Linked DNA regions of Homo sapiens: all the other regions are linked to region 3. Evidence: fine-mapped expression QTL. A gene starts in region 3. Each other region holds a variant in brackets. All regions are shown on one strand. Distances are from middle to middle. Region 1 holds the start of LINC00921 (long intergenic non-protein coding RNA 921). Region 2 has its middle 18 kb from the start of ZNF75A. Region 3 holds the start of ZNF200 (zinc finger protein 200).

Region 1 (2,758 bases), 28 kb before region 3:
TTGCCTGACACGTGCACCCTCGCACGTGGCACAGTAAGTGGGACACATTAGGCACTCGGAAAATATTTGCTGTAAACATGAAAGAAGGGCGACAGGCTAATAAAGTGTGGAAGGGTTTTGGGGTCAGCACAGCCCCGGGACGTCCCATCCCCGTGGGCCGCGGGCCGCCCGGAATACGACGACTCCACTTGCCGGCGCTGCTCCCGGGATACCAGCGACAACAGCGGCTCAGTCCCGGCAAACGGCGCGTGGCCCCTCCGGCGAAAAGCAGCTATAGGCTGTTGCGGCTGCCAATCAGACCAACAGAGCCGCGACTCGGAGACCTCTGGGAGACGTGGGCCCCCGCTAATCCGCCCTCCAATTGGCTCGCGTGCTCCCGGGGCGCTCTGGGAGATGTGTTTCTGGGAGTGTTCCGCGCATGTGCATGCGTGAGGGCGGGGCGTCGGGGTCGGGCTGGAGTGTCTGTCGCGCCTTATGTGGGCCCCTCGGCAGAAGACGCACTTTCGGCAGAAGCCGCACTTTTGGCAGAAGCCGCCCTGGGTCCTTTCCCTCCCGCAGGCAGGCCGGGACCCCGGCGGGAATTGCGTGCAGGTCGGGTCTCGCTTGACCCCAGCGCCTCCCCGCGTCCGGGCACACTGCGGACAGTTCCTTTTTATTCTCTACCGCTACTTCCTCTTTATCTTCTGCCGCTCTTTCCACACGTCTCCTCCCCCAGGCCGCTTCCCTTTGGGGCGCCGGGCCAGGGAGGGGCTGCCGGACCGGAGACCCCGGACTCGCGCCGGTCTCCGCTCGGGCGTGGGGTCCGTGGGGCGTCGGCGGGAGGGGTCCTGGAGGAGACGGCTGTGCCGGGGCGGGACCCCCTGTCCTCTTAACAGACGCGCCCCTGACAGTCGTGCCAGTCGCCGCCCTGGGCTTTGGGGACGTCCGAGGACGCAGCTGGCGGTTCCTCCCGCGGTTCCCGGCACTGTTACTTCCCCGAATTCCCAGAACAACCCATTTGATAGGAAATGGAAACTGAGAAAAATCGAGTAATTTACTCACGTCACACGGCCACCAGATATTTGAATCTCGTATTTCCCACCACTTCGTGGCTTCCAGGCTCATAAACAAGAAGTTGCAAAACAGGGTGAGGCGTGGGAATGACAGCAGCACGGGGCGGGGAGTGGAAGGGCGGAGCACCTTAGAGGGCAGGATTCAG[C/G]AAACGGAACCTCAAAGGAAACAGTGTCAGTGCTGCTGCTTAGTTGGTAAGAAAACAAAGGGCCGGGCGCGGTGGCTCACGCCTGTAATCCCACCACTTTGGGAGGCCGAGGCGGTCGGATCGCGAGGTCAGGAGTTCGAGACCAGCCTGACCAATATGGTGAAACCCTGTCTCTACTAAAAAATACAAAAATTAGCCGGGCGTGGTGGCGCGCGCCTGTAGTCCCAGCTACTCAGGAGGCTGAGGCAGGAGAATCGCTTGAACCCCGGAGGCACATGTAGTGAGCTAAGATCGCGCCACTGCACTCCAGCATGGGCGACAGAGTGAGACTGCGTCTCAAAAAACAAACAAACAAAAAAAGGGAGTAGCTGCCTTCCAGACACAGTTTTGTTATTTTTCTGCCCCTTTCACTAGCCTGTCAGCCCTTTGGTGGCCGGGGATTGCGTGTCCAAAGCCTGGCTGCTAGTCAGGTTCCTATAAATATTGGTAGGACAGAGCGTATTAAAGTTTTTATTTTAAGATTTTTAAGCACAAGAAAGTTGAGAGAGTAACATGAATACTCACGTACTCTCCACCTAGATTTAATAATCAGAAAAAATTATGTGTGTAGGCCTTTATTTTTTACAAACCCTCTTGTTTAACGTTACCGCCTTCCAAATGAAGCTCATTGGTGAGTGGTGTGGGGATCTATTCAGAGCCCCATGACTGCAGCCCTTCAGCAGGGTTAAGGCCACCTGCCACACCCCACTTTGGGAAGCTGGCTTCCTCTCCTCTCCCTCCGTTTCCAAGCTGCTCAGGAGGTGCCCTCAGAAAGATCAGTTACAATTAGTGTTATCTGCGTAGGGGACTGGGCAGCAGATCTCATTGATCTGGGCTGGGATCGGCAGGTGGGTTGGTCCAAGTTGAGAGGGAGATCCTGCAGAAGCTCTTAGCTGCTGCAGGATTCAACACTAACTCCTTAAGGTAGCAACAAGGGCCCTTTGTAAAATCTGGCCAGAAACAGGTATCTTAGATGCATCTTCACACCCGCCAGTATCCAGTCTACCCTTATCATGTCAGCCCTGCTTTCAGAATCACCCAGAATCTGACCCTTCTGCCTCCACAGTGGTTCAGGGCCCTGCAGTCGCTTTCCTGCATTGTGACAATAGATTGCTTTCTCCTCTCTGTTTCCACCTTTCTCATCTCTTGTCTCTTATGGAAGCCAGAGTGTTCTCTTTTCTTTTCTTTCTTTTTTTGAAACAGTCTCACTCTTTCACCCAGGCCAGAGTACAGTGGTGCGATCACAGGTCACTGCAACCTCCGCCTCCCAGGTTCAGGTGATTCACCTCAGCCTCCAGAGTAGCTGGGACTACGCGCACATCACCACCACACTCAGCAAATTTTTGTATTTTCAGTAGAGACGGGCTTTCACCATGTTGGCCAGGCTTATCTCGAACTTCTGACCTCAGGTGATCCACCTTCCTTGGCTTCCCAAAGTGCTGGATTATATGTGTGAGCCACCGCGCCCGGCCCAGAATGTTTCTTTTAAAGCGTAACTCCAATTATGTCACTGCTCTGCTC
Region 2 (2,758 bases), 88 kb before region 3:
TTATTGCATGGGCCTGGAACCAAACCTGCAATATATTTGAGGTAAGCATATATATGTATATGTAAGTATGTATATGTATGTATGTACATATATATACGTGTGTGTGTGTGTAGGAGCTAGGTGTGATGGCATGCACCTGCAGTCCCAGATTTGGGGAGGTTTAGGCAGGAGGATCACTTGAGTCCAGGAGTTCGAGGCCAGCCTGGGCAACATATCAAGACTCCCATCTCTAACATATTTATAAAACAAACATACGTAGAGAGAAATCCATTACAACACTGAGCAGTTTAGTTAGATATTTTTCTCATGGTTGCTTGGTCAATTCAGTAGAGTGAGTACTTTGATTTGGTCCCAGAACATGAGGCTGATGCATCATAATGTGCTTTCTTCAACTCAATGGCCTTTGCCCATCTATTAACTCTGCTATGCAGGTGAATTGCCTGAGCTCAGGAGTTCGAGACCAGCCTGGGAAACACGTTGAAACCCTATCTCTATTAAAACACAAAAAATTAGCCAGGTGTGGTGGTGCACACCTGTGGTGCCAGCTACTTGGGAAGCATGAGGCCCGAGAATTGCTTGAACTGGGGAGGAGGTTGCAGTGAGCCGAGACCGGGCAACTGCACTCCAGCCTGGGGGATAGAGTGAGGCTCTGTCTCCAAAAAATAAAATAAAAAATTTTTTTTCCTAACTCTTCTGTGTAACAAGCTGTTGTTCCCTATGCTACTAAATATTTTAGGAATTTTTCTAATGCTACAAATATTTAATTTTGTCTTTGTGAACAGTAAAGATCTTTTACTTTTTGATTGTTTCAAATGCTTTGAAATCATTCAGTTGATTGTACAAATCATGGGCAAATGCTTAGTGTGAAAATTATGTTGGAAGTATACCTATTGGTTTTAAAAATTCAACAGTAAGGATCAGCAGCTACAACACTAGAAAGATGGCAGAGCAAAAGCAAAGAAAAATCCCTTTGGTTCCAGAAAATCTCCTGAAAAAGAGGAAGGCTTATCAAGTCCTCAAAGCCACTCAGACAAAGCAGGCACTTTTGGCAAAGAAGGAGCAGCGGAAAGGAAAAGGGCTCAGGTTTAAGGGACTGGAATCATTCCTACATAATTCCTGGTGGCAGAAATGTGACAAGGTGTGTCTCAGATGACTAGAAATGAAACCTCGTGCCTTGGAATTGCCAGATAAACATTCCTTGGCCTTTGTTGTATGCAGCAAAAGGATTGTTGGCGTGAGTCTACTGGTGCAGACAGCCATTGCAAGACTTCATCTTAAGAAAATTTTTAGTGGTGTCTTTGTAAAAGTCACCCCCCAGAACCTAAAAATGCTGCGTATAGTGGAACCTTATGTGATCTGGGGATTTCCAAATCTGAAGTCTGTCCGGGAATTCATTCTGAAACATGGACAAGCCAAGGTCAATAAGAACACCATCCCTCTGACAGACAACACAGTGATTGAGGAGCACCTGGGGAAGTTTGGTGTCATTTGCTTGGAAGACCTCATTCATGAAA[T/C]TGCCTCCCAGTGAAGCATTTCCAGGAGATCTCATGGTTCTTTTGCCCTTTCCACCTCTCAGTGGTCCATCATGCTACCAAAAATACAGTGGGCTTCCTCAAGGAGATGGGCACATCTGGCTATTGGGGTGAATGCATCAATCAGCTCATCTGCCAGCTGAACTAGACCCAGGTGCCAAACTGCAGTAAATTTTTATCAATGAAGTGGAAGCATGTGTTTTTGTTTTTTTGAGATTTTTTTTATCAAGTATCTTCAAAGACTATTTCCTGCTTTATCTTCAAAAACTGGAAAGGAAGGGTTAAAAAAAAAGACAGTAGCTTAGGTTCATGGCAAGTACCTCTCATCACAGTCCAGTTCCAAGGAAAAATTCCAGCATTTTCTACATTGGCTGCCTCCTTGTCGGCGGAAGTAGTCCTGCTTTGTTGAATCTTCTATCCTAGGGTTTAATGTTGGTGAATGAGTAACTCTAGCATTTGTACAAGGCTTCCTAAGACTCCGGGAGCAGTCGACCAAGCCCAGGGACATAATTGAATCTGGAGATTCCTGGGTCCTTGTTTTGAAAAAGACTTGAAATACACATAGGAAGAAAGGCCCAAAAATAAATGTTAACTTGTCAAAAAAAAAAATTTCAACAGTAAGCTTTCTTAGTTTCTCCTAAAAGGTGCATCATATCCAAACACTGTAAAGCTTGATTTTTAATGTCAGCGCTAAGATTGGTGCAACTCAAGATTCATTATCTGAACTGTGGCAGAAATGAAAAGTGATTCAGATAGTTTTCTTAAATCTGAAATGCAATGCAAAAGGTAGCTTGCTTAATTCCTTTCACAGGAGGGATTCAGACTAGGCGAACTGCTTTAGGCAAAGTACACGCATTATCAGATTTGGGTGAATCGTACAGGAGAAAAGCCTTACAGACGCTCGACTGAAGAAGGCATTTCAGTACAGCCCAACTACCATTGCCCAGTGGAGGATTAATACATGAAGGAAACCTAGGCATGTAGCAAATTTGGTTGATGTTTCAAACAGTGCCCTCATCTCGGTCCCCAGTGAACCCACACAAGAAAAAGTGACAGGTGTAGAAAAGATTCAGAAACAAAAGTATGCTTTTTGTTTGGGTGGATTTCTACTGGGACAAACAGTAGAAACGTGAAGTATGGGCAAAACTTTGTTTCCCACTTGAGGGGACTTCAGAGAGTCTACATAGGAGAGAATTCAGTCCACAGAGAATGTGGGGAGAGCTTCA
Region 3 (2,758 bases):
AGAGCTCCTCATTGCCTTTGCTTTTTGTCAGTTGGCAGGGGTTCATTTTGTCTTAGGAATGTATAATCTTTTGTGTAGCTAATCTTTACAATTATCTTCCAGTCTATTTCTTGTTTGTTAACAGAGTCAAGAAAAAGTTCTTAAAAAATACAATCACACAGGTTTATATTTTACTTCAAGACATCTCAGTTATCTGTTTTGCCTCATAATTCAAACCATAATGCTTTGATTAACGGAGGCTTTTTAGTAAATTTTGATCTGAAAAGGCAGATATTCCTTATTTTTCTAGAATGTCTTGGTGCCACACAGTTTTCATACTCGTTTCTTTGTAACATATTTTAAGCCATCGTCAGCCATTAGTCAGGTATAATTAACTTTAAGAAGAGGCATTCATTTATATTTTTACTTTTGTCAACTTTCTGGAGGCTGGTATTACATCGAGAAATAAGGCCATCCCTGCCCACAAGTTGTCCGAACCCTGATCAGTGCGTCACTGGGGAACGAACCGAGTGTGGATACAACGCACAAACACAAAACTCTGTTCGGCCTCCGTAGGAAGCTGAAATTGAGAAAGGAAACCGAGACAGTAGGAGAAGGGCAATTAAGATGTCTTTAAAAACAAGACGGCCGGTGCGGACAGCAGTGTAGAAGTTAGCAAGCTGGAGTGGGCAATGTCGGTGCCCCATCTCTAACCTATGGGAGTCACCAGAGCGGGGGCGGAGTCCCATGGCGGCCACACCCTGTCCGCCTCCGCAGTCTTTTTACTGGAGAACCGCAGTAAAAGGCGGAAACCGCGGAGGCGTCTTGATTTTCCGGTCGGAGAGATAGCTTGCTTCCTTTAAGCCTCGGGGTAGGGGGGTGGGGAGGGTAGGGGGGTGGGGAGGGTAGGGGGGTGGGGAGGGTAGGGGGGTGGGGGGGTGGGGAGGGTAGGGGGTGGGGGGGTGGGGAGAGTAGGGGGGTGGGGAGAGTAGGGGGGTGGGGAGAGTAGGGGGTGGGGGGGTGGGGAGAGTAGGGGGGTGGGGAGAGTAGGGGGTGGGGAGAGTAGGGGGGTGGGGAGAGTAGGGGGGTGGGGAGAGTAGGGGGGTGGGGGTTGGGGGGTGGCGCCGTGGGGGGTGGCGGGGTGGGGGGTGGGGGGTGGGGAGAGTAGGGGGGTGGGGGGTGGGGAGAGTAGGGCGGTGGGGGAGTGGCGGGGTAGGGGGGTGGCGGGGTGGGGGGTGGGGGGAGCGCGGGCGCTGGGTGGGCGGGGGGTGGGGCGGTGGGGGGGCCTGCCCCGCCCCAACCGCCGCGCCTGACGGTCGTCCATTGGTTGTTTGCATTCGAACTACATTTCCCAGCAGGCCCTGGGGTTAGACTGGCCGCAGCTGGAGAGGTGCCAGCCCGTCGTGGATGACTAGAGCCAACCACCTGCCTTCCGTCTTCCAGGCAGAACCACAGAGAGGCTACAGCCGTCCTGGCCTCCCTCCGGCCCTGAGAGCTCCTCTGGCCTGTCTCAAGTCTTAACGTCTCAAGCGCAGACTGCCGGCTCCGAACGGGGAGACCAGGCTTCTGCACCGGAAACAAGGCACCGGTTGTGACGTCACAGCCGCAGAGCGCCCGACTTCCCAGAAGGCACCGAGTCCCTGCCGTTCTCCTCAACTGGCGGCGGCGCGAACGAATAGTCGCCGGCGACCTGTGAGGGCACTCGGAAGGGCGAGGGGAGGGCTCGACCGCTCGCGCCTAGTTTTTCTATCTCTCCCGGAGCCTGAGTCTCTGAGCCGTCCCCAGCAAACGCTCAGGGGCTGCAGAGGCCCCGAGAGGTGAGGGGCTCCGTGAGGGCGGGAACCAGGCTGAGGCCGCCTCTGGGGAGCGGAGCGTGTCCGTTGCTGAGGGAGCAAGGCCGGGTAGGGAGCCTGGTGAGCGCCTCAGGCAGGGGCGCACGCTGAGCTTTACGGTAAAGGTGTTCCTTGACCAGCGGAAGAGGCCCCAGAGTGAGCCTGGCCCGGCGGTCCTTAGTGGGATGTCGCCTGCCGCTCTCAGCAGAGCTTTGACGGCGGAGAGGAGTCGGCAGGCGGTGTGTGGACACCTCCTCGGCCTTGCATCTGCTCCCCGGGAGAGTCACCAACCGCCTCCCCGCCCAAAGGGCACCGGAGGGAGCTTCGGTTCGAGGGGTACAGTATGGCCAGATTCAGTGACCAACCTGCTTTTAGGCAGATGTCCTCGGTATTGACCCCAGATTTCCTGTCTTCTAGCCCATTGCTCTTTCTCCAAGCCTGATTTAACCTATTCCTGGTGGGTTTTACACACCGTCTTTCTTTCTGTCTTTTCTTTCTTTTTCCTTTTATTTTCTTTCTCTTCCCTGATTCCCTTCCTCCTTCTTTCCTTTCTCTTTTCCTTTCTTTTTTTAGAGTCAGGGTCTTGCTTTGTCGCTCAGACTGCAGTGCAGTGGCGCGATCACAGTTCACTGCAGCCTCGACCTCCTGGGCACAAGCAATCCTCCCAGCTCCCCAGTAGCTGGGACCACAGGCTTGTGTCGCCACGCCCAGCTAATTTTTTTTTTTTTTATGGAGTCGGTGTCTTGCTGTGTTGCCCAGGCTGGTCTTGAACTCCTGGACTCAAGCGATCCACCCGCCAGGGCCTTCCAAAGTGCTGGGATTACAGGTGTGAGCCACCGGTACCTGGCCACACTTTGTATTTCTCAGGAGGCTGGACCTTGGCCTTCTCCGCTCCACCCTTACTCCCTTCCCTTTGGACTTGAGGTTTGCACAGTCTCTGTTTTTCA

What was found. PIP is the estimated chance that this variant, and not a neighbour inherited with it, causes the effect.
Region 1: its variant is fine-mapped to the expression of ZNF200 in whole blood (TOPMed, PIP above 0.99).
Region 2: its variant is fine-mapped to the expression of ZNF200 in breast (GTEx, PIP 0.95).

The regions. Positions count from the first base shown.
Region 1 is chr16:3,262,167-3,264,924 of GRCh38, reverse strand. LINC00921 (long intergenic non-protein coding RNA 921) reads right to left here and starts at 1,157. Exons shown (of 2, transcript NR_033904.1): 1 at 1-1,157. RefSeq lists enhancers at 177-246, 397-496, 937-1,096 and a silencer at 737-916. The variant C/G (reference allele first, on the strand shown) is at 1,199.
Region 2 is chr16:3,322,108-3,324,865 of GRCh38, reverse strand. It overlaps a transcript of ZNF75A not described here, a transcript of OR2C1 not described here and the pseudogene RPL7L1P19. Among named protein-coding and RNA genes, the nearest start is that of ZNF75A, 18 kb to the right of the region's middle. The variant T/C (reference allele first, on the strand shown) is at 1,515.
Region 3 is chr16:3,234,025-3,236,782 of GRCh38, reverse strand. It overlaps ZNF200 (zinc finger protein 200), which reads left to right and starts at 1,625. Exons shown (of 5, transcript NM_198088.3): 1 at 1,625-1,796. RefSeq lists enhancers at 1,307-1,516, 1,527-1,586.